5 separate regions of the Homo sapiens genome follow, and regions 1, 2, 4 and 5 are each reported to be linked to region 3. Evidence: microRNA targets listed by miRTarBase, many of them from high-throughput screens and not tested one by one. Region 3 holds a microRNA gene; each other region holds the end of a gene's coding sequence. Distances are from middle to middle.
The links. Region 3 holds the annotated microRNA hsa-miR-186-3p (GCCCAAAGGUGAAUUUUUUGGG, at 1,887-1,908, shown strand). A microRNA usually pairs through its seed, bases 2 to 8, with sites in the 3' UTR of a target mRNA and lowers its output. Matches are read on the target gene's strand: a 7mer-m8 pairs with bases 2 to 8, a 7mer-A1 pairs with bases 2 to 7 and ends in A, and an 8mer does both.

Region 1 (5,105 bases), not on the chromosome of region 3:
GCAGAGAACAAAACGGAAGCCGTGCCCCGAGTGGGAGGACTTCTTGGGAAGTATATCGATAGACTTATTCAGCTTGAGTGGCTGCAAGTCCAGACTGTACAGTGTGAAAAAGCAAAGGGGGGCAAAGCAAGGCCCCCCACTGCCCCTGGGACCTCAGGGGCACTGAAAAGCCCTGGGAGAAGTAAGCTAATTGCTAGTGCTCTGTCCAAGCCACTACCTCACCAGGAAGGGGCTTCAAAGTCAGGCCCTTCCCGAAAGAAAGCTTTTCACCATGAAGAAATCCACCCATCACATTATGCATTTGAGACTTCCCCTAGACCCATTGATGTGCTTGGTGGTACCAGGTTTTGTTCTCAGAGGCAAACCCTTGAAATGAGGACAGAAGAAAAGAAAAAGAAATCAAGTAAGAGTACGAAGCTGCAGCGCTGGGATCTGTCCGGCAGTGGAAGCAGCTCTAAGGTGGAAACCAGCGGTCACATTCGAGTTCCCAAACAGGCAGCTGTGATTCTGGACTCAGCAGATTCCTGTAAGGCCTCCAAAACACAAGCACATGCACATCCTAGGAAAAAGGGAAAGGCAGAGAGCTGTGGTCATGCCACTGTATCGAGTGAGAAAAAACTGAAAACAAACGGAGTAAAGCAAAACACATATAAACTAAAATAAATATCTAAAATGCTGAATTGCCAAGACCTGCAGGTACCTCAATGTTAGAGCGCTTCCAAAAGTCAAAATACTGTGAATTTTAAGGAATTTTACAAATACTGACATTTAAGTAGTTGACTGGCATTTTTGTCCACCTTTATTTCTACCCTGAGTGGGGTTATTTTCAAAGGGAAGTGTCTTTCAATAAGCCTTTCTTTGTATTGTCAGTCTTAGGCAAATGAGAGCCCTTTAGATAAAAATTATGTAAAATATGTGCCATATAAAGGAATAAAATGGCACCTCTCCAGGGAAAGTGTCAGTGAAACCTCAGCTACAGTAGCCGGTCTGTGTAGAGCAGCTAGTGGTGTTACCTCCCCATTTTCACATGCACGTAAGTATATGAAATAGTGCAGACTGTTTCAAATGGTGTGGAATCCTAAATGTTTAAAATAAGGTCCTTCTTGCCCACTCCCTCGCTTACTTTTTTATAAACTCCTCAAGCAAAATTTCTGTTCATTTTACCCTTAGGAGAAGCTTTAGTTCTTCCTCAAGTCAGGGAGTAGTGAGTTTGTATTTTGAGTAGTCATTTCTCACTAAGCTGGTTGCTTTCTAGAGAGACAGTGGAATCTAGTACTTTAATACATTTTCTCTGACATGGTTTTTTTTTTCTTTTTTGAGGGGCATTTTAAACTTAGAGGTGGTGGTAAAACCTACTTTTGAGTTCTCCGAACTGAGGTTAAAATAACTTGCAGAATTTTCCAAAGTCAATGGGCTTAGCATGATTACTGCTGTTTGGTGGGGCTGAGAATGAAATATTTGACATTCTGGAATTGCTGGCATGTAAAGCTTCTCCAGAGAGGCACCCCAGGGAAATCACTCTTTACAATTTGTAAAGGAAGGGCCTGTAAAAGGATCAAAACACATGGACCTACATTCAGTGTAATAGTTACAAAGTTACTGATTTGGGTTCCACACCCTGTGGTCCTTAGTCAAAAATAATGATCTGTTTCAGTTTGCAAGAGCAGGATTTTATTATTTTGCTTGGGGTGAGGGGCGGGAGAGTGGAATATGAGTAAGGTTGCTGAATGAATTCTAAACTCGCTTATCTGGTCTTCAGGCTTCCCAACTCTCTCCAAGCCTTCTTATTTCACTGCAGTTAAATAACATCTTCTTGTTCCTATAGTTGTGCTGTGAGTTTTCTGTTCATATTTGCGCAGTGTATTTTAATACGGCCCATGTCATTATAGTTGATTTTATCCCTTTAAACAATTACTGTATTTGTTTTTGACGTAGAGGTTTCAATTTTTTCACCTTGGGGGCAAATGAAAAACTTGGCATTTTTCATTTGGGAACATATAATAGCTTGTAAACTTTTCAGACAGCAGTAAATGTCTGAAAAAATATCAAAAACAGCATAAAGACAAGATTATGTAGCTCTAATTATACGTATATAATTATAAAAAACAATGTGCAAGGGTTATATTTTAAGGTCTTTTAAAATCTGATTTTGATCATACCAAATGACATAATATTTTTTATGGTAGCCTTTTACTTTCAAGACTTAATTTTCAGACTTGTACAAGTTCCTTCTTACATTCTTTCCCTCTCACACCATCCTACTGGAGAAAGCATACTTTTATGCTAAGATCTTACTTTAAGCTTTTTATGTGAACAAAAGATGTACATATAGTAAGTATTACTTCCGTAGTCCTCAAATTTACTATAACTTTTGTACTTAGTATATGTTTTATATTTGGAAAACAGCACTACGCTTAGTTTTCCTGTAGTTCCTGAGTGATGTCTGTGTGTTCCTTGCCTGCCCTTTTTTGTGAGCACAGATTAGTCTGTTATCCATGGCTGGCACTTCACTTATGATCCTTTCTCTGCTAGATTTTTATGCAGCTCTCTATGAAGTTTCATGGCCCATAGATATTCAAAAGCAAGATATTCTATACATATGTGTATATGTATATATACTCCTTATGTTAATACTAAAGTGTTTATGCTGAGTTGCTGCCTTTCCCCGTCATGTATCCATGTGCATGCTCTTAGAGACCTTGAATGGTTGAGGGTAAAGTGATTTATTAGTAATTCTACTTGCCTTGTGTATGTCTGAGCTGAAAACAATCGTGATTAAGAAATTTAGAGGTGGCTGGGCGTGGTGGCTCACGCCTGTAATCCCAGCACTTTGGGAGGCCGAGGCAGGCGGATCACCTGAGGTCGGGAGTTCAAGACCAGCCTGACCAACATGGAGAAACCCTGTCTCCACTAAAAATACAAAATTAGCCGGGTGTGGTGGTGCATGCCTGTAATCCCAGCTACTCGGAAGTTTGAGACGAGAATCTCTTGAACCCGGGAGGCGGAGGTTGTGGTGAGCCAAGATCGTGCCATTGCACTCCAGCCTGGGCAACAAGAGGGAAACTCCGTTTCAAAAAAAAAAGAAAAAGAAAGAAATTGAGAAGTAACGCCTCATAATATTTGTTCCCAGCTTTTTAAATTGAAGCTGGTTGCATAATCTGGGGAATAGTCATAATTTCATGTGTTATACAGTTTAAAAAGCCTGCAAAAGTGACTTTGCTTGTTTACTTTCTGCCTCAGATTGACTATTTTAACCAATATTGTCACGACTAGATCATAGCTCCTAGTGAATAACATGAGGTGTTTTAAAGTTAGGTCTATTACAGAATTAACATAAGCACAATTTTAATTTTATGATATCTGATATGCCTATCTAATACATCTTAATGCATTAAATGCTGCAGATAAGAATCTTGCTATTTTTCAAGTAGACAACATTAGAAAGTTGAATCATGAACTCATTCAATTCATCAAGTCAAAAGCACTGAGTGTTTTGCTAGTCTAGTGACATGGGTTATTGTATTTCCGAGAAGTGCCTCTCATTTCTGGGGAGTTGTTTACATATACCCTGCATTTAAACCAATTAAAACAATCCAAGTTTCTTTAAAAAAAAAAAGAAAAAGAAAAAGAAAAAGAAAAATATTTTAGGCTTAGAATTATCTAATGGAAAAAATGTAAAAAAGTACAAAAATGAACTAAAAGTATATCAGTATTTGCAGTATTTGCTGTGATTACTTAGGTTTAGACTTTCTCAACTTCTTAGATGACTAAATGGGCTGAAGACTTGTAACTAACTTGAATAGGATAGACTTCATACCCTGTGACAAAAAGGATGGGGAAGAGAATATCATTGGTCTTGCCATATACCTCCTAGCTAAAAGGAAAATGGTTTGTAGTTGTTCTTGGGCCTACTGTGTTGCTTTTCAGAAGGACATAAGACTTTCTACTTTATCTGATATGGATATCGTCTACTTCCTCATTCCTTTATGCTCACTTATGGAGTAGTTACATAGAAATATAACTCTTGGTGGTACTGTATTTTAAGGTAATTCAGAAGCAGTATGTATTATTTATGTACATGTACAGGACACCATTCAAAATGGCTTGAAAATATTCAGCATGTTTGTTATTTGCTGTTATATTGTATGTTTAGTTTTGTATGTGATAAACAGAATTGATGTAAGTTTTTGTGGACTTGAATTTCTCCTTCCTTGAGATCAATTAAACAGCAGAAAAATATTGTCTGGATTTTTCTGGTATTGTTTTGTTTTGCTTTTCATGCAGTTCTCTTCTGAAGCTTGCCTTTATTTTCTCCCTGGTTATTTAAAGGAATTGCCCAGGATGAAATGCTGTTACAACTCCTGTCTTAACACTAAGCGACATGGGTGGCCAAAGCACAGGTTAACATTACCGGATATATCAGAGAAGCATTGCAGTACATTTCTTGAGTCGCTCTTCCACTTACTACTCCATGTTGAGGATTAATTAGGGTAGCAGGATGCAAATTCAGTAAGCATAAATTAAGGTAACCTGTGATGTAATGAACTTGCACCTTTATGTACATATCCGGAAACGAGTACCATCTCTTTCAAGGAAGTGGCCTGGTTAGGAGATAGCAGTTTTGAGCAGCTCCAGCTGCAAACATTCTCAAAAGCCCTTTGCTCTTCTTTCTAACTTCACTCTGACAATAGGGTGCATTCTTTTGAGTCTACCAAATTGTGGCAGTAATGTTCAGTGGCTTAAAAAGTAAGTTTTTGGATATGTTTTGAAAATTAACCACGCTGGAGGTTTAAAATCTTTTTTTTTTTTTTTTTTGTACAGGAAATGTATTATTTTGGGCTGTTGCTGTTTTATTATCCACAAGGTGGCGACCAAACCCTTTCAGATAGCAGTGAATTTGGCCTGTGAGTACCTTCTAGTCAAATAAAAAGGTTTTTACTGGAATCAAAAAGAAATGGAGAGAAAAAGACTTTTTGACTTCAGGCCCAAAGCATGTTCTTTATTTAACTTCACTCTGCCATCAGAGAATACAGTGGTTTATCATATGCAGTTAGGTGCTGTGGAGGATTCTCTTTGATTCATTGAACAGTCTCACATCATAAAAC
Region 2 (5,097 bases), not on the chromosome of region 3:
GAGAGCGGGGTTATGTTTCTAAGTAATTCATATTGATAATGGCATTTTCTCCAAGCTATCTATGGTGTTACATGAAAAGAACAAAACACAGAACAGTATACTATATTTTCTTGAACATGCCTAGAATCCCTCTGAAAAGACAGAGGATGGTAACTGGGTGGGAAGAATTTTCACCTTTCATAATTTTGAATCATGTCAATGTCTTTATCTTAAAAAAGACGACACTGAGCATAAAAAAATAAGGTTTTATTTTCAGCTGATTTTAGAAAGCTCAGAAAAAATTTAAAGAAAATTTATCTATAATTCCCTGACCCAAAGATTACCACTGTCAGATGTGCACACAAACATCTTGGTGCATCGCTTGGCTTTAAAACAAACTGGGGTCAGGACATGGTGGCTCATGCCTGTAATCCCAGCACTTTGGGAGGTCAAGGCAGGAGGACTGCTTGAGCCCAGGAGACCAGCCTGGGTAACACAGAGATCCAGTCTTTACGAAAAACTGCAACATTAGCTGGGCGTGGCAGCATGCACCTGTAGTCCCAGCTACTCCAGAGGCTGAAGCCGGAGGATCGCCTGAACACAGGAATTCAAGGCTGCATTGAGCTACAATCACGCCACTGCACTCCAGCCTGGGCAACAGAGCAAAGCCCTGTCTCAAGAAAACAAACAAACCCACTTTTATACTCTTGACGCTGGGTAAGCATCTTCTATAATGGGTATATTTAAAGGATTTGGGATTAATATTGTAGTAGGCAAGCACTATTTGTATTCTAGAATATTGCCCTTGCTTTCTAGCTTTAACATTTTCTGTCTCAATTTACACTATTTGTACTAGGTAATATTCACTTTTCTTTTGGTTGTCATTTATTGTTTTCAACACTATCTTCATGACCTGTTTGTGTTCAGAGTGGCTCACAGATAAGGAAACATTTTTGCCCAGTCTTAAGTTCATGGAAGATAATAGGAAGAGTAATTAACTGCAGCAAAAGGTTAGGACAAAACATGGCATTATCAGGGCTTGAAAGGACTTTATTGTGGCTGTGGTGAAGCAGGCCCTGGTCTTGGCAGATGATACCAGAAGGGCACTGAGTGCCAGCGTGCAACTTGAATTTGATCCCATAAAGTCAGGCATCAGGAAGCCATTCAGAATTTTTCACCCTGTCAGATGCTCAGATTTGCTAGAGAACTCTGGTAGTGGCAAGAACCAGAGCTGTTACTCAGAATTGGGACAGAGGCATTGTCCCAAAAAAAAAAAAGCCCAAATCAGAGCAGTGGCAATGTAAGTGCAGGGAGGACATGATGTGGGATTATTTAGAAAACAGGCCAAATGACATGCAACTACTCTGCGGATACAGACGAAGCAGGAATCAGGGACCCAATAAGTCTCAGGTGCTTTCAAGTAAGAGCATGTAGGTGGAAAGGGGCAGGACTCTGGGTTCCATTCTAAGTAACTGAGACTGAAGCAACAGTGGAACCTCCAGATACAGATAACCCCTGACAGACTGAAATACGATCTGGCGACAGCAAGGAGGTGGCAGCTTGAGAGAGGTCTACAACCCACCTAATGGTTTAGAGCCACCTGACTACCAGGCCTGTGTGTGGACGGGAAAGTCCTGAGGATTGGACTCTGGAAAACCATCACACTTAAGAGACAGAGGAAAAAGAGCAGTCACGGAGGTAGGTCACGAAATGGGTCAACAGGACCCCCGAAGAGTTCAAGATACTGGAAAGCACTGGCCATGAGTGCCAGATCTCCAGCACACACATCATGAATTTGCTTCTCCCCAGAGGAAAAGAAGCTCCTTCAGGGTGGTGCCTGGCTCAGGGTAGCTGGTCAACAACTAGCTTTTAAAAAAACAGAGACACGGTCTCACTATGTAGCCCAGGCTGGACTTGAAATCCTGGGCTCAAGCGGTCATCCCACTCAGCCTCCCAAAATGCTGGGATTATAGGCGTGAGCCACTGTGCACAGCCAATAACTACTTGTTAAGTGAATGAAGAGGTAGGAGCTGGGCTCTAAGTGGCCACTGGACTTGCTGATTAGAAGGGAGTGATGCCATAAACCACAGCCACTTTCAGGACAGCAGCCTGCCTCCTCTCCTCCTACCCCTATCCTGTCCAACACCTAAGCATAGTAGTACCACTGGGAGTCTGTCTCCTCAAAAGCAAGAATGTTCAGGTACACATGTGTGAGTTCACCTCCTAACTATAGGGGAGAAAGCCTGTCTTTATGTATAAGTCTCATTCACCCATTTTGACCAAAACCCTTCAGAGGGAGATGCTGTCATTATGATGGGTACCTCTTCAAGACTACGCAACAGTAACAGAGCCTATAAAAGCTACACAGAGGCCGGGTGCGGTGGCTCACGCCTGTAATCCCAGCACTCTGGGAGGCCAAGGCAGGCGGATCACCTGAGGTCAGGAGTTCGAGACCAGCCTGGCCAACATGGTGAAATCCTGTCTCTACTAAAAATACAAAAATTAGCTGGGCGTGCTGGCTCACGCCTGTAGTCCCAGCTACTCGAGAGGCTGAGGCACGAGAATCGCTTGAACCTGGTAGGCAGAGATTGCAGTGAGCTGAGATTATACCACCGCACTCCAGCCTGAGTGACAGAGTGAGATATGGCCTCAAAAAACAAAAAAAAGCCACACAGAATACAAGCAAGAAAGTACTTTTAGATTAAAATTCGTCTTATGTGAATTATGGCAAATGAAATCACCCCACTGTTTACCTGTTTTATGAGTTTTTACATTTGCTTAAAATTAGCATACTTGATCTTTTACAGTTCCCATCTCCACCAATTAGTATTGGCAGATTTCCACTATATGTAGAAGTCAAAAGATCAGACTGTAAAAATATCAGATATTGTAATTAAGAGCTCCAAACAAGTCTTGCAGTTTCAAAGGTAGAAACCCACCCAGCCAGTTCAGCTGCTTGGACTTCAAAGCCCTCCGCCTAGCCATCTCAGCCAGGCTCAGGTTCCTTCTCCCACCCATCAGGCCAAGCAGGACTTGTCAAACATACACATTCAAGTTCCTAGCACACAGTAGGTGCTAAGTGGGAATTGATTATAAACTTGAATTCTTCCATCAACAAATATCCACCTCTCCTGTCCAGCTTGCCTCAGATCTTCAGGTTCTCTCTTCTCTGAGGCAGCTAAGCTTCTACATCCTTCATGAAGTTTCCTTTACTTCTCGACAGAAGACAGTTCCCTTTAGGCCTATCATCTCTAAATGCAACTGGCTTTCCATTTTCCACTTACTCAACACTCCACAAAGTACACTTGCTACATGGTATTTATTCAATGACTGTATATTTAGTCACCACCTCAATCACTGCTAAGCTCTCTTCATGTCTATCTGTACCACAGTTTCCCATCTTAGACTGTGACGTCAGCTGGCAAGGGCTGGCTGTTGGCCGATTCATCATGACTGACATGGTGTGTCACAAAGAGCTCCAAGTAAATGCTGTGAAGGAAGAGGATGAGGATGGAGATGAGGATCCTGAGAAGGGCCCAGACTGGCTGCCCAACCCATGGACCTGAGGCCTGAGTAAGGCCTGGGAGCTGCTTTCCCCTCTGCCCAGGAACTCTGTCCAGGGGCGATTCTAAGGCACAGTGGTGAAGGACATGATTGGTCCCCCAAGTGTGGTCCTCAGGTCTCATGGCAGCCACTCGCCTGGGAACAGTGCAACAAGCATTCCATTTAGAAGATCTTCCAGAACACACACAAGAAGCATTGTCTAATGAAAATGGAGACAAGGTCTTTCTTGGAAGAGAGTGCCCAAGTAGATACTCTCTGCCCCAAGACTAACCAGGTCCCTTTTAAGGTCCCTGAGAACAGCAGCCTGGGAGCAACCAAGCCTTTCAAAGGCTGACAAGGCACAGAGTGGATGAATGGAACGAACGATACATGAAAAAAACACTTTGGCTGATAAAACCTCCAACCTGAGGCAGGGACAGTGTCGCTCGCTGACATGCAGAAACATGACTGTAGCAGAGATGATGATGATGAGAAATGCTTCGCATTTCCCACACTGCCGATATCCCAAGCCCTGTGCTACCACCCTCTCCCCGAACACACACACACACACACACACACACACACACACACACACACACACAGAGCATCTGCAGAATAAGTCAGAGGTTGACACCCAGAGCCTGACGTCAGGATAGGACTCTTGGCACTCCGCACTGAAACACCGTGATTAGTCCTGACTAGACAGCAAAAGTAACGCCAGCCTAAGCTTGAAATGAAGGGTCCATCTTGTGAAAAGTTAGGCTGCGCCCAAGACAGCCAGGTCTGGGAAGTCTTTCACTTCTCCTACTTCGCTGAAAGGCTGTCCACCTTGGTTGAATGTCAGCTTGTACCGTAAGCGGATAGGTTCCTGGGACAGAAGAGACAGAAGATGTCAAATCAGTGGAGAGCAACCCAGGAACAGGGGTCAATGTTAAGTCAAGTGAGTGTTTCAAACAATTCTGACACAAAATACCTGGGATACTCTCTTTGGGACTACAAACAAGGGGAAACAGGCACATATCCTGGGAACCCTTCGATAATTCTGCAGTCCTGAAATCCTGAGATGGGCTGCAATTCAGAGACCAGCTAAGGAAGACAGACCTTGTCCTTTCAGAGGACTCCAGAGGATTAGGGAGAGTTCATGTGTCCCTCCCTTGGTCCCCAGCTATGACAATCCATCTGATCTTCCTTCAGTGAGCCCCAAAGACAGACTCCAGCGAGGGATATTCCACATATACCCCTAACACCCAACCAAACCAGAGACTGACTTTCTTTTCTTTTTCTCTTCTCCTTCCTTCCTTTCCTCCTTCCCTCCCTCTCTCTCTCTTTCATCTATCTGTCTGTCTGTCTATCTATCTATCTATTTGATAGAGTCTCGCTCTGTCACCAGGCTGGAGTGCAGTGGTGCGATCTTGGCTCACTGCAACCTCCGCCTCTTGGGTTCAAGCAATTCTCCTGCCTCACTCTCCCGAGTAGCTGAGACTACAGGCGCACGCCACCATGCCCAGCTAATTTTTGTATTTTTAGTAGAGATGGGGTTTCACCATGTTGGCCAGGATGGTCTCGATCGCTTGA
Region 3 (5,102 bases):
TTTTTTTAATTACCTTTTGTTACTAAATCTTATCTAATTTAAAATACTATGTTTTGAAAGTATATATCTTGTATAGTTATCTTTTTATATGAAAATGAACTCTAATACATATCTTTCTTTCAGTGTTCATATCACAAAGCTCAATTAAATGGTCCTGGAAAAAAAAAATCGTTCCATGTTGTTCCAGGTCCCGTTCAAGAAGTTCTTCCAGTTCGCAGTCAAGATCTCGTTCCAGTTCCAGAGAACGTTCGAGATCTCGTGGGTCGAAATCAAGGTGAATGAGGTAGCATCTCTCTGTAAAGCAGAGAGAAAAATATTTAAAGGCTGCAGAAGGTGTTGCTGCTTTTTTTCCCCTTATTTTGCTTCTACTTGTCGATTTTATTTTAGCATTAGAAAACTAATGCACTTGCCTCAGCTTAATTTTCTCACCATGAAATGTTTCCATTGCCAGCAGTGTGCCAAGACATTCCCATGATTGAAATCAGGTGGCTATTTTGCAATATGCAGCGTTTATTATTTTGGCACTAAGATGTTATGAAGTAGGAAGATGAAGCCAAGTCTTATCGCCACATCTCTAGTATATTAAGATTATATATGGCCAGGCACAGTGATTCATGCCTATAATCCCAGCACTTTGGGAAGCTGAGGTGGGAGGATCACTTGAGGCCAGGAGTTCAAGGTTGTAGTGAACCTTGATCACAGCACTGTAATCCAGCCTGGGTGACAGAGGAGTGTCTCAAAAAAAAAAAAAATTAATAGTAGTTCAAATAAAATTACATATGTAAATAAAAAGAAAAATTTTCTTCATTATTAAAAGGAAGAAAAATAACCCTGCCTCAAAACAGGTCCTGTTTTGCACGGCAGTTGTTTCAATATTTTCAGAAACAAATTTGCCATTTATATCAGATAAAGTTACTAGAGTACTGTATATACATTTTCCTTTCTAATTTTACACACGCTATTATTTATAGAGCACAAAACACTCAAAACTAAATCAGGAAGTATAGTCGGTTAGTTGAGATAGGATGTGGTCTTAAGTAGTAAACAGTGTTCTAAAGTTTCAGGTTGCATGTAGTCACATCTGTAGAGGGAAACATAATTTGAAAGATGCTCTTGCAGGAAATTTTTCTTTGTTTAGTCAAAATATGCTCTCTTTGTTTTTAAGTTAATTTATTATGACCTAAAGGCATCTAAAAAATAAATAAGAAAATGAAATTCCATATTTGTGGAAATTCATATTGAAGTCTAACTGTGGCTGTTTTGGTAAAAGTATTTGCTGCTTTGAATCAAATTTAGCATTAAAGGGCTGCCACAGTATAATCATGTTAAGGAGAAAAGAATGTTGTGCACACTTGCATTATAAGCCAATAAGAAATAGATAACAAGGCCAGGCTCAGTGGCTCACGCCTGTAATCCCAATACCTTGGGAGGCCAAGGTGGGCGGGCTGCTTGAGCCCAGGAGTTCAAGACCAGCCTGGGCAATATAGTGAGACCTCGTCTACTAAAAATAAAAATTAAAACAACCAGCCAGGCATGGTGGTGTGTTCTTATAGGCTGAGGTGGAAGGATCACTGGAGCCCTGGAGATTAAGGGTGCAGTGAGCCATGCTTATGCTACTGCACCACAGCCTGGGGAACAGAGCAAGATCCTGTCTCAAAAAAAAAAAAAAAAATAGAAGTAGAGAGCAAATTATTTTTTATTGTTACCATTATTTAGTAACAATATTTAAGCGCTTTATAGGTAAAAATCCTTAAGTTCTGGTATTCCCTTTGGGAACCATTATAATTAAGGTTTACAGAACACCCATCATATTCTTCCCAAACATTTTTTCATTGCTTGTAACTTTCCAAAGAATTCTCCTTTTGGGCTTTCTGGTTTTATTTTAAGCCCAAAGGTGAATTTTTTGGGAAGTTTGAGCTAAATTCCTTCAACCAAAATATACAAGTGAAGAAAAAAAATTTGTATTTAAACATTTGCACATTTACTTCTACCTGAAGCATGTGAATGTCAACACTTCATATTTCATAAGTAGTGGGTTTTCATAAAAATAGTATTGTAAATATAAATCATCTTAAAGTTAGTTTTTATTTCTTCTTGAATATTTAGCAGTTAAGTACAGTTACTAGTCTTTTGTTGCTGTGCCATATACCTGGTTTTTCCATAACAGTTTAATGAGTTGAATAATTCCACATGGAATTATGTTTATTTTCCTCAGGAAGTGGTATATAAGATACATATTTTAATCCTCAAATGGAAGGATGTAGTTCCTAAACGTAAAGTCCTGTTAATGCAGTTATCTGCTGATTTTATAATACTATAATATTTGTGTATACTTTGAAAAGCCTTAAAAAAAGTTTAAATTCTATTTTGATATAGTAAGCAGGGTTTTAATTACACATGATAGAATTTTAAAGAGACAAAATTAAAATGTTTAAGTAGAATGTTTTCATGGTTGATCCAGAAGTCTTCTGTTGAATAAGCAGTAAGTATTCTTCCTTATAAAATTTTCATAGTTGTTATAAATCCTGTTTATTTTTGGAGCTATCTGATAACTAAATAATCTTCCTTATTTCTTCTTTTAATGAAATGTTTGATTTGTTTCTCAATCAATGAAGATCCAGCTCCAGGTCCCACAGGGGCTCTTCTTCCCCACGAAAAAGATCTTATTCAAGTTCATCATCTTCTCCTGAGAGGAACAGAAAGAGAAGTCGTTCTAGATCTTCTTCATCTGGTGATCGCAAAAAAAGACGAACAAGATCACGGTCACCCGAAAGGTTTGGGTTTCTGTAGAAATAAGAATGGGTGTTCTTAAGTGTGTTTAATAGATAAAGTAAACTTTCCTAGTCAAGGGTTAGATTTTTATTATCTCTTGTGTTCCGACTTTCTACTTTTCAACTTTGAACTTCAAAAAAACATTACTTTGCTTATCCTTTGTACTTTGATCAGGTTGTTTAGAATTGTAGATCAAACCATTCTTTGATCATTTTATTGTTTAAATTTTTAGTTCCATTTATAATTTTTATAGCCAACTCTCGGTTATTTCTGTCTTTTGAGATTGCAATTCAGAAGCTGTATGTCGAAGTAATTTATGAGTTGACTTTTATACTTAGGCTTCTTTAAATACTAATAGTCAAGAATTCTAGAGCATCTAATAAAAAATTAACTTTCAGATCATTGGGAATCTGTCCTCATTTAAATATGTGTAAATGCATTTCCACAGCAAATTGCTTCATGCCCTTTGTCTATAAGGAAATTATTCCTTGTAGCTAATACATTTTTCATTTTGCAGTCCAAATCTTTTTTGAGAAAGGCCTATATTAGGTTACTTTATCTGTACTGACACTTTTAATATTGGAAGAATGCAACTGTCATCTGTCAGCCTTTTCTGCAACAGGCTAATTACTCAGTTTCATTAATTTTCTCTTTGTTCCCAATTATATAGTCATTTTAATGGCTTTATTTGTAGTCTTTGCAAATTTTTCATATTTTATTAGCTTGTGAAAATAAAGATTATGTAAAGTCTATTAATTGCTGGGTTCAGTGGTAGGATTATCTCATGATTCCTACTTGTACAGAATGATTAGTTTTGCTTCTTCACATTTTGGAGTTTAGATGTTAAGATTTCACACAGTCTTGTTTCTCTGCATTTGTTTCTTTGTAAAAAAAATTACTCTGTTTTTGAGTGGAATTCATTCTGTTGCTTTCTTACCACTTCTGCAAATTTTTATCTTAGCCACATATAATCCCCCTAGTTTGTTGTCATCTAAACTTAATGAACATGTTCTCTATTCCATAAGCCAGGTGATTGGTGAAAACACTAAACAACCCTGAGCCCAGGGCCAACCCCTACGGAACACCACTACTTTACCCAGGTTGATATTGACTTATTCATACTAGCTGCATGAATATAACCCTATAGCAAATTGTACAATCATCTTGTGTGACCTAGATTTCCAAAACTTATTTATGAGTATATTTTCTCATACACAGAAGCCTTGCTGTATCTTTTTTACATAATAGACTTCTTACACTTTCTACACCGTGTCACAGGGATTGGTTTAGTCACACTTCCATTACCAAGTTTATATGCTTTTGTTGTACATTTTCTGTAATTTTACACATTTTTGCAAGGCTTTTCTTTGATATCTTAAATAATTGAGAGGTGGCTATATTTTGAAATGAGATTCTTTTGAAATTGTAGAGAATTTTTTATTGTATTTATATGATAACTGGGCTCATATCCAAAGTCTAAACATCAGATAATTTTATGTGTGTAAGTTCCTATCTCAATTTTTAATTTTTTTGCTAGCATCATGGTACTGAATTTTGTATACTTTCACAGTCTTAAGAATGAATGCTGAGATTTAGCTCTAGCTTACTAGAATGCCTACTCTCTCCATTATGTCTTACAGACGCCACAGGTCATCATCTGGATCATCCCATTCTGGTTCCCGTTCAAGTTCAAAAAAGAAATAATGTATTAAAATTTACATCTTAAAAAAATCCAGTACAGTGCATGAAGCATATTTTTAAAGAAGTTGGTGTCTTACTTGGTCAGAAGTGCTAAATCTGCTAGTAGAGGTGCATGCCTTTCATTGCTTTTCAAAACAATACAGCTGTGTTTATTTGTGAAGTTAAAAGTAAATAGCATTTTAAGCCATAATGTCCCAAAATAGATGTTCTGTCATTCATTATTTACAACCATTTGCTTCATTTAAAACCATTTCAGCTATAACAAAGTACTTTGCTTCCTAATTTAAACCCATTTTTGTCATTTCCAAATACATCCTGTCCATTGGCTAAGACAGGATTACCTAGGCTTGCCTGAACTTTGGGCATGGAAGAAAGACTGGAAACTAGTTGGAAACAACATACTTATGGAAAAGAAAGTCAGCCTTTTTATGCTGTTAACAGATGTCAGAGTGATTCTCACCAAAAAAAGTTAAACTATGTTGTAAGCAGCCAACTGTAAATGTCTATTTTGAAATTCCCTATGCTAAGGGTGCCTTAGAATCATTGTGTCTCTTTTATCCAGCTTTACTTTTTTGCTCCACATTTAATGCAAAAGAATCTTGTGATGTCTACAAGGAGAGAAGTGGGAT
Region 4 (5,086 bases), 52 Mb from region 3:
ATCGAGACCTGCTGGGTTTCATCCCATCTGTTCTTTACAGTGTGCAAAGCTGGCCAGGCCCCTTACTACCTTTATACTTGGCATTTAGCACATGGGGCTGGCATGGGGCATTTCCCTTCCTCACTGAGCAGGTGAGGGCAGGTGGCTCAGCCAAGGCCGCAGAGCCAGGATTGGAGATCAGGACTTGTCATGGGTCCTTGTGTCCCCCAGGGCACACAGGTGTGGTGCTGTAGGTGCTGAGGGGTCCTAAGGTGGCGGGTGTTTAACACCTGGTGAGGTTAAATGCTAGGGTTTTTTCTTCGAAATGGGGTCTCACTCTGTTGTTCAGGATGGAGTGCAGGGGCTCGATCACCACTCCCTGTAGCCTCTACCTCCCAGACTCAAGTGATCTTCCTGCTTCAGCCTCCAGAGCAGCTGAGACTAGAGGCGCACATCACTACGCCCGGCTAATTTTTTTTTTTTTTTTTTGTAGAGACAGGAGGTCTCCCTACGTTATCTTGGCTGACTTCTAACTTCCGGCATCAAGCAATCCTCCCTTCTTGGCCTCCCAAAGGGCTTGGATTACAGGTGTGGCCATCACGCCTGGCCAAATGCAAGGATTCTCGCCCACTGCCTCCCCTCTAGCCACCCAAGAACACGGATGAGGGGCCCAGAAACATGCATGCATTCTGATGCTCAAAAATGTAAGATGTCTACTTAGAAGCCATTAGCCCCTCAGTGCTTCAGGGACCTGGGTGCAGGCAACCGCCCTGAGATGACCCCTAGTACTGACCCCCGTGCAATACCCTCCCCCAACCCAGCTTCTGGAACAAGCACCACTTCAAGGCCATGGCCCTGGTGGAGCAGGTCCTGCAGATTGTGTATATAGCACCAGTGCCCCTGGCATGGCCTTGACTGTCCTGCGATGGACCACTCGCAAGCTGCAGGTAACCCAGCTGTCTCTAGATGCTCAGCTGCTTCTCTCAAATTCTGTGGGGGTGGGGAGACTGGGGAAGCTGCGAGGGCTATGCAGTCATTTGGTCACTTTGACCAAGAGGAGTTAAGTCCTTTTCTTCCTATGAAGGCTCTCCATGGCCCAGTTCTTTTGGGTGGGGTAAACCTGTTCTTACACAAATTACTTAAGCGGCCAGGTAACCAACACTAGTTATTGCGATGGCCATGTTAAGTATGGTCATCTCAGTTTTACATGAGGCAACTGGCTCAGAGGCAATTTCACTTGTGTAGGGTCCCACAGCTACACATGGTAGGGAACGAACGTGGGTTTGACTGAAACTAATGTTTTTCTTTTTGGGGGGACAAGGTCTTCCTCTTGTCACCCAGGCTGGAGTGCAGTGGCTTGATCATGGTTCACTGCAGCCTTGACCTCCAGGGCTCAGGCAATGCTCCGCTTCAGTCTCCCATGTAGCTGGGACCACAGGCATACACCACCATGTGACTAACTTCTGTATTTTTTGTAGAGACAGGGGTCTCACTACATTGCCTGGGCTGATCTTTTTTTTTTTTTTGAGACAGAGTCTAGCTCTGTCACCCAGGCTGAGTGTAGTGCTGTGATCTCGGCTCACTGCAAGCTCCGCCTCCCAGGTTCAAGCCATTCTCCTGCCTCAGCCTCCCGAGTAGCTGGGACTACAGGCGCCCGTCACCATGCCCAGCTAATTTTTTGTATTTTTAGTAGAGACGGGGTTTCACCGTGTTAGCCAGGATGGTCTCCATCTCCTGACCTCGTAATCCGCCTGCCTCGGCCTCCCAAAGGGCTGGGATTACAGGCATGAGCCACCGTGCCCGGCCTGAGCCTGGGCTGATCTTGAGTCTTTGGGCTCAAGCAATCCGCCCACCTCAGCATTCCAAATTGCTAGGATTACAGGTGCAAGCCACTGCATCTGGTCTGAAACCTACATTTTTAACCATTAGCTTTTCCTGGCTCCTTGGCTGCCCACCCTGGAGACAGCCCAACCCTGTGTGTAGTGGCAGGGTTTCCCTCTCCCTGCTGTCCCTAACCCCCTTCTCCAGCTTGGGTATTATATGGTTATGGCTTCCCTTTAGTGAGCACGTTACGTGCCTGGTCTGCAGGCAAAGTGCTTCACACAATTTCTAATTCAGACAAGCGGCCTGAAGTCTGAAGCTGAAAGGCTGGGTGACTGACCTGGGTTTACCCAGCTGCTGAGCAGCAGATGAGTGGCTCTGAAGTCAGCTGTCTAAAGCTGAGACAGCGTGGAGGCAGGGCTTTAAAGCCCAACGGTCATGGCTGTTTGCAAGCAGTAATGCAAGGCATACGTGAATAACCAGAGCCCAGTTAGCGGCGGGGCCATGGCTGGGAGGGGCATGATTAGTCACTGTGCAGCAGAAATGTGTTGAAGTCTAGCTGTCTCCCTTACAGGGCATGCATAGGGACGTGGTCATCCTGGATGGAGCAATTGGAGAAACTGGCAGCAGCAAAGGGACCCTGGACTCGGCTGTCACAGAGGCCGCCGACCAAGCCTGGCACCTGACCATCCCACTACCTCCTCCAGGTCTGGCTAGACCTGGCTCAGGTGCGGAGGGCACCACCTGCCACCCTTCATTCTCTCCCCCTGGCCAGTTTTGGCCTTAAATGGTTGTAGGCTGCTTTCCCCTCTCAGCCCGGTTTGCAGATCCTCCCCTACACTCGTGCAGTCTTCCCAGTCATCCTCACAAGGCGAGAGGGCCGGGCCTGAGCTCTCCTTCAGCACTTCCTGCTGAGGCTGGTGCTTGACCTGGCCTAGGCCTGGGTGAACATGGTGAATTCCTCTTCTGCCCGAAGCCTGCTTCCTGCTGTCCTTCCCAAGGGCGTGGTGAGAAGTGGGCGGGAGTAGGAAGTCTCCAAAGAACAGAGGCACTGAGAGGGTGTCAGAGGCACAATGCCGTTGTGAAGGTCACCCCACACCGTGGGACCCAGCCTGACCTCCCAACAGCAGGGCTGGAGGTGGCCCTCTTCCATGCATGGCAGAAAAAAGAGGGCCACTGTACACCCTGAAGCTGATTTACTCTCATTCAGAACTGCTTTCATGAAATACAAATAGAACAATGTGGGCTGGATGCGGTGGCTCACACCTATAATCCCAGCACTTTGGGAGGCCAAGGTGGGTAGATCGCTTGAGCTCAGGAGTTTGAGACCAGCCTGGGCAACATGGTGAAACCCCATCTCTCCTTAAAATTTTAAAACAGAAAAATCAAAAACAAACAAAAGCAAATAGAACAAGGTGGACAAAAATCTACCATTAGAGTCACCAAGGATAAAACCTCCCAGGATGCCGTGGACACTTTAGACGCTGGCTCTCAACTCTTGCAGTGATGTCACTCTCAGCCCAAGGCTGTCTTCCTGGCATCCATCAGATCCGCAGCCCTGGTTTGGAAGTGTGTGGAGGGCTAGGAAGGATACCTAATTTTCCTCAGCAAATCCCTCTGCCAAGGGGTACCCAGGACTGAAGAGAAACCCCAGCTCTGGTGTGGAGCTGTGCTGTCATGGCAGTGCCAAGGCAGCCAGTGGAAGTTGGCTGACAAGGCAAACTGAGGCAATCCACGCAGAATTCAATGGCCACCCAGGCTGGAGTGCAGTGGCATGATCATGGCTCACTGAGCCTCCAACTCTCAGGCTTAAGCAATTCTCCCACCTCAGCCTCCCAAGCAGTGGGGACCACAGGCAAGTGGCACCACGACTAATTTTTTTTTATTTTTTGTAGAGACGGGATCTTGCTGAATTGCCCAGGCTGGTTTCAAACTTCTGGGCTCACCAAAGGCCTCTTTTCTAAGAAAGAGCCCTCTCCCTCCTCTCCCTCTTGCTGTCTCCAGGAGAGACATCCTGCAAGGTTGTATTCTTTTTTTTTTTTTGGGACAGAGTTTTACTCTGTTGCCCAGGCTGGAGAGCAGTGGTCCAATCTCAACTCACGGCAACCTCCACCTCCCGGGTTCAAGTGATTCTCCTGCCTCAGCCTCCTGAGTAGCTGGGACTACAGGCACATGCCACTATGCCCAACTAGTTTTTTTTTCTATTTTTAGTAGAGACGGGGTTTCACCGTGTTAGCCAGGATGGTCTTAATCTCCCGACCTTATGATCTGCCCACCTCGGCTTCCCAAAGTGCTGGGATTCCAGGCGTGAGCCACCGCGCCCGGCCCACAGTTTTATTCTTTACAGGAGGTCAGTGCCCATCATGTTCCCTGTCTACAGACAAATAAAAAGCTGCTCTCTCCAGAGGGGCGGCAGCAGTCCTGATGGTCCAGTGAGACCCAGAAGCTTCCAGGAGACCTTCAGTCCCGAGTCCCTTTCAGTCATCATCTTCTGAGTCTGACTCTTCTGTGGACTCAGATGCGCTCTCTGGCAAGTCGTCTCCCATCTGCTGGAACCTTCCCGACTGTGAATCCCACATGTATTTGATGGTCACCTTGAATTCAGCCATCTCATACCCAAAAAGCTTCTGCAAGAGACAAAGGGAACAAAGAATCAGGAGGAATGAAGGTATTCAAAGTGCAGGGGGGCATTTTCAGCAGGCAGAGGAAAGCCAGCAACCCCGCCCGCAACAGCCCGCAAGGCGCCAGACTCACCAGGACGCGAGCCTGCTCTGGGGTCAGCACATCGCCCTCCTTGCACACCTCGTAGTCAGACAGCAGAGTCACCACACCTGCAGAAGAGGGTGGCTCTCAGTTACCTCTGGCCCAGAGGCCTGCAGAGCCCTCTCTGCCCTGGTCATGTTGGGAGGAATCCAGTCAGCCACCTGCCCTCCCCACGGCTCCAACACACACTGGGCAGTGGCTGTCTCCCTGAGGTCCCTTTGATTTGCCGCAGCCTCGACCTCCTGGGCTCTAGTGATCCTCTTGCCTCAGCCTCCCATGTAGCTAGGACCACAGGCACACACCACCATGGCTGTCTAATTTTTTGACTTTTTTTTTTTTTAAACAAGCGCAAGGCCCCTGATGGGCCTCAAGGGCTGCATTTTGGCTGTAAGTTACTGTCTGCTTTCACCCCCACTGTGAGGCATGCACTCTTAGCCCCATTTTCTCATGAGAAAATGGAAGCTTGTAGAAATAACTTGCTCAGCTAGAAAGGGATGAGCTTGCAGGCCCGTGCTCTTGGACT
Region 5 (5,105 bases), not on the chromosome of region 3:
AGCACTTTGTGAGGCTGAGGCAGGCAGATCACTTGAGGTCAGGAGTTTGAGACCAGCCTGGCCAGCGTGGTGAAACCCCATCTCTACTAAAAAAAATACAAAAATTAGCTGGGCTTGGTGGCGCATGCCTGTAGTCCCAGCTACTCAGGAGGCTGAGGCAGGAGAATCACCTGAACCCGAGAGGTGGAGGTTTCAGTGAGCAGAAATCAAGCCACTGCACTCCTGCCTGGGTGACAGAGTGAGACTCTATCTCAAAAAAAAAAAAGAAAAAAAAGGTGAATAACTACATGAATGAGTAAACAGGATTTTTTCTTCAATTTTAACAGGACTTACTGTCTATTCCCTAGAAATAAGAGCAAGATCAGTTACTAAAACTCCTTAGTGTTGACTGTTTTCATTTGTCTTTCCTTCCTTTTTTTTTCTTCCCTCAGGATTTAAGCGAGAGCCTCACTGGTTCCCAGGACATCAACCTGAACTGGATCCTCCCCGATACAAATGCACAGAAAAGTCAACTTACATGAATAGCTATTCAAAGCCTTAAATTGGGCATCACTCAGGATGTGTATAAGATCTTAATATTGACTAGTTTCACATCCAGGTTTCTAAGAAATGATAAGATACTTCACTTTTCCAGAGTGAAATGTAGGAGGGAGCACATTCTAAGTACAGCTAAAAATTTAGCTCACTGTAACACAGTTTCACTCTCTGAATAAATAAAGCAAAAAACACAGTAAATATTCTTTATCCCTTTTTTTGTTGTTGTTTTAACCAAGATTTAAATGTCAAATTTAATACAGCAACTCAGTTCTACATTTGGGGTGTTGTAGAAGGGCCTTAAAAAGAATTATTTTAGGCCAGGCACGGTGGCTCATGCCTGTAATCCCAGCACTTTGGGAGGCCGAGGCAGGTGGATCACGTGAGGTCAGGAGTTCGAGACCAGCCTGACCAACATGGTGAAACACTGTCTCTACTAAAAACACAAAAATTAGCTGAGCATGGTGGCTCACGCCTGTAATCCCAGCTACTCAGGAGGCTGAGGCAGGGGAATCGCTTGAACCTGAGAAGTGGAGGTTGTGGTGAGCTGAGATCATGCCACTGCACTTTAGCCTGGGTGACAGAGCGAGACTCTGTCTCAAAAAAAAAAAAAAAAAAAGAATTATTTCTCTGAAGTCTACAACCACTGTGGTCTTCCCTTCCTTCTGTCGTAGCAAGACCTCAGAATCTAGCATAACTTAGGCTAGGTTTGGCTAGATGCTTTCTGGGTATAAGCCAGAGTCGTATAGTGCAACTTTGCTGTGACCTTAGTGAACATCCCCTCTTGAGGACTACAAAAACAAACGTAACTTTTTAAAATTATTATGGAGAATTTTACGTAAAACAAAAGTAGACAGGCTAGTCTAATGAACTCCCATGTATCATTACCCAGCATCAACTATTTATGACTAATCTTACCTACTTCTACTTTGTCTTATTGAATTAATTTTGGAGCAGATCTTAGAAATAGAATTTAATCTATAAAAATCTTGGTGGGCTGGGTGCGGTGGCTCATGCCTGTAATCCCAGCACTTTGGGAGGCTGAGGTGGGTGGATCACCTGAGGTCAGGAGTCCAAGACCAGCCTGGCCAATGTGGTGAAACTCCATCTCTTCTAAAAATACAAAAATTAGCTGGTCTTGGTGGCGGGCGCCTGTAATCCCAGCTACTTGGGAGGCTGAGGCAGGAGAATTGCTTGAACCCAGGAAGCAGAGGTTGCAGTGAGCTGAGACGGTGCCATTGCTCTCCAGCCTGGGCGACAAGAGCGAAACTCCGTCTCAAAAAAAAAAAAGAAAAGAAAAAGAAAAAAAAAATCTTGGTATACTGGCTGGGCACAGTGGCTCACACCTAATCCCAGCACTTTGGGAGGCTGAGGCAGGAGGATAGCTTGAGGCTGGGAGTTCAAAACCAGCCTGGGCAACATAGCAAGACCCCATCTCTACCAAAAAAAATTTTTTTAAAGATTTCAGTATATTTCTCAAAAAGATAAGGACTGTCAATTGTCTACTCCCCCCCAACAAAGGTCACTAAGGAAACCTGTTGACTAAACAAAGCTCATTAAACCTATTGTAGTGTAGCAAAGGAGACCATCAACTTGACACAGAGTCTTGGTAATGATTCAAAGGGAGGATGTTAGAGTAAGGTATTTATAAGGATTTGAGATAAGGGTCCAACTGGTTTAAAATGAGTCAAAATAGGGAACTAGTAGAGACTGAGAAAGGGTTGTGAATAGCTTAGGTTTGGTAAACTTAGGAAATCAACAGTCTTAATTTTAATATGGTTAAACTGATTAGTATTTCCTATTTTTTTATCTACTGTGTAAGAAGACACTATAATATATGGGCATTACTGAGAGATACTGCCCATATGTTGTCCTCGTAAGCAAGGAGATATTTTTTATCTCCCATATATTACCTCTCAAACCTTTGTTACTTTAGTTTCGAGATATAGATCCAGAATTTATGTTGTTACTCAGTAGTGAGGAAGTTTCTTTTTTTTTTCTAAATGGCTATCAAGTTGTCCCACCATTAGTTATTGAAAAGACCATAATTTTTTCACTCCTATTCAATGCCATTTTTATTGTAAATAAACTATGTACATGTAGGTCTGTTTCTGGGCTACTATGTTCTATTAGTTTAATTGTCATTCCTTGTATTATCTTAGTTATGATGCCTTAATTGCACCATCTTAATTATGATAATTTTATTACATTATTATTATTTTATATCTTAATACCTAATAGATCAAATGCTTTCGTCTTGTTTTCTTCAAGAATATTAGCTATGTTTGAACTTTTGCATTTCCATATAAAATTTAGAATCAGCTTGCTCCATAAAATGACACTGTTAGGATATTGATTGAAACGGTATTGCATCATTAGGTCAGTTTTAGAATTTGAGTTCTCATTAATTCTAATAATTTATTTGTATGTTCTTACAATACAAATATTGTTTTATAGACACATATTTTAAGTTTACATATCGTATGTCTTATTCTATTTCCTATGTATCTAGCACATTTTTAAAATTGAGGTAAAATATACATAACATGGCTGGGCGCAGTGGCTCATGCCTGTACTCCCAACACTTTGGGAGGCCGAGGCTGGCGGATCACTTGAGGTCACGAGTTTGAGAGCAGTCTGGCCAATGTGGTGAAACTTTGTCTCTACTAAAAATACAAAAATTAGCTGGGCGTGGTGGCAGGCACCTGTAATCCCAGCTACTCCAGAGGCTGAGGCAGGAGAATCTCTTGAACCCAGGAGGCAGAGGTTGTAGTGAGTCAGTATCATGCTATTGCACTCCAGCCTGGGCGACAGAGCGAGACTGTCTCAAAAAAAAAAACCTATACATATATATATATATATATATATATATATATATATATATATATATATATGTATGTATATATATACACACACATAACATAAAATTTACCATTTTAGCTTTTTTGTTGTTGTTGTTCATAGAGACAGGGTTTCACCATATTGCCCAGGCTGGACTCAAACTCCTGACTTCAAGCAGTCCACCTGCCTCAGCCTCCCAAAGTGCTGGGATTACAAGCATAAGCCACCATGTGTGGCCCATTATAGCTATTTTTAAGTGTGTAATTTAGTGGCATTAAGTATTTTCACAATGTTGTGCAATGTTCACAATGTTGTGCAACCATCACCACTATCAATTTCCAGAACTTTCTCATCATCCCGAACTAAAACTCTGTACCTATAAAACAATAATGTCTCATTCCCCGACCCCCACTCCCTCAGCTCTTGGTAACCTGTATTCTACTTTCTGTCTCTATGAATTTACCTATTCTAGGTACCTCATTTAAGTGGAATTGTGTAATATTTGTCCTTCTGTGTCTGGCTTATTTTACTTAGCGTAATATTTTCAAGGCTCATGTATGTTATACCATGTATCTTCCTTTTTGTTTTGAGACAGCCTCTGTCACCCAGGTTGGAATGCAGTGGTGTGATCATAGCTCACTGCAACCTCAAACTTCTACACTCCAGGGATCCTCCCACCTCAGCCTCCCAAGTATCTGGGACTACAGGTGCATTCCACCACGCTCAGCTAATTTTTTAAAACAAATTTGGATACAGGGTCTCGTTTTGTTTCCCACGATGGTGTCAAATTCCTGGGTTCAAGCGATCCTCCCACCTCAGCCTCCTCTTCTTTAAGATTGAATAGGCTGGGCACAGCGGCTCACACCTGTAATCCCAAAACTCTGGGAGGCCAAGGCGGGCGGATCGTGAGGTCAAGAGATTGAGACCATCCTGGCCAACATGATGAAACCCTGTCTCTTAAAAAAATACAAAAATTAGCTGGGCATGGTGGTGTGCACCTGTAATCCCAGGTACTCAGGAGGCTGAGGCAGGAGAATCGCTTGAACCTGGGAGGAGGTGGTTGCAGTGAGCCGAGATTGCGCCACTGCACTCCAGCCTGGTGACAGAGCGATACTCTGTCTCAAAAAAAAAAAAAAAGATTGAATAATATTCCATGCATATATATACCACAGTTTGCTTCTCCATTATCTGTTAATGGACACTTGGGTTGTTTTCACCTTTTAGCTATTGTGAAATATGCTGTAATGAACATTGGTATACAAGTATCTGTTTGTGCCCTGCTTTCAATTCTTTGAGGTATACATTCAGAAATGGAATTACTGGATCATACCATAATTTCTATATGTTTTTGTTTTTTTTTTGTTTTTTTTTTTTTGAGACAGAGTCTTACTCTGTCACCCAGGCTGGAGTGCAGTGGCGTGATCTTGGCTTACTGCAACCTCTGTTTCATGGGTTCAAGCGGTTCTTCTGCCTCAGCCACCCAAGTAGCTGGGACTACAGGCACACACCACCAAGCCTCACCAAATTTTGTACTTTTAGTAGAGACAAAGTTTCGCCATGTTGGCCAACTGATCTCAAACTCGTGACTTTAAGTGATCGGCCTGCCTCGGCCTCCCGTAGTGCTGGGATTCCAAGCGTGAGCCACCACGCCTAGCCAATAATTCTAATTTAACAGTTTGAAAATGCCAAACTTTTCCATAATGGCTGTACCATTTTATATTCCTACCAGC

Region 1: miRTarBase lists FAM217B as a target of hsa-miR-186-3p. Seed matches in the 3' UTR shown: 7mer-A1 at 1,987-1,993 and 8mer at 2,829-2,836.
Region 2: the mRNA of GGA2 is a reported target of hsa-miR-186-3p. Seed matches in the 3' UTR shown: 7mer-A1 at 1,931-1,937, 7mer-A1 at 1,241-1,247 and 7mer-m8 at 312-318.
Region 4: miRTarBase lists MRTO4 as a target of hsa-miR-186-3p. Seed matches in the 3' UTR shown: 8mer at 4,084-4,091.
Region 5: miRTarBase lists CFAP68 as a target of hsa-miR-186-3p. Seed matches in the 3' UTR shown: 8mer at 889-896, 8mer at 1,566-1,573 and 8mer at 1,893-1,900.

Annotation. Positions count from the first base shown.
Region 1 is chr20:59,944,433-59,949,537 of GRCh38, forward strand. It overlaps FAM217B (family with sequence similarity 217 member B), which reads left to right. Exons shown (of 4, transcript NM_022106.3): 4 at 1-4,248. The coding sequence ends at 663. Among named protein-coding and RNA genes, the nearest start is that of FAM217B, 6.6 kb to the left of the region's middle.
Region 2 is chr16:23,463,311-23,468,407 of GRCh38, forward strand. It overlaps GGA2 (golgi associated, gamma adaptin ear containing, ARF binding protein 2), which reads right to left. Exons shown (of 17, transcript NM_015044.4): 17 at 232-4,390. The coding sequence ends at 4,280. Among named protein-coding and RNA genes, the nearest start is that of COG7, 13 kb to the left of the region's middle.
Region 3 is chr1:71,064,448-71,069,549 of GRCh38, reverse strand. MIR186 (microRNA 186) reads left to right here and starts at 1,834; the gene lies at 1,834-1,919. ZRANB2 (zinc finger RANBP2-type containing 2) reads left to right here. Exons shown (of 10, transcript NM_203350.3): 8 at 188-274; 9 at 2,616-2,774; 10 at 4,413-5,102. The coding sequence ends at 4,476. It overlaps ZRANB2-AS1 (ZRANB2 antisense RNA 1), which reads right to left. Exons shown (of 3, transcript NR_038420.1): 3 at 2,366-2,784. RefSeq lists a silencer at 998-1,047.
Region 4 is chr1:19,258,022-19,263,107 of GRCh38, reverse strand. It overlaps MRTO4 (MRT4 homolog, ribosome maturation factor), which reads right to left. Exons shown (of 8, transcript NM_016183.4): 7 at 4,555-4,631; 8 at 2,980-4,427. The coding sequence ends at 4,278. Among named protein-coding and RNA genes, the nearest start is that of MRTO4, 8.8 kb to the right of the region's middle.
Region 5 is chr11:111,883,340-111,888,444 of GRCh38, forward strand. CFAP68 (cilia and flagella associated protein 68) reads left to right here. Exons shown (of 4, transcript NM_022761.3): 4 at 432-2,636. The coding sequence ends at 541. Among named protein-coding and RNA genes, the nearest start is that of CFAP68, 6.4 kb to the left of the region's middle.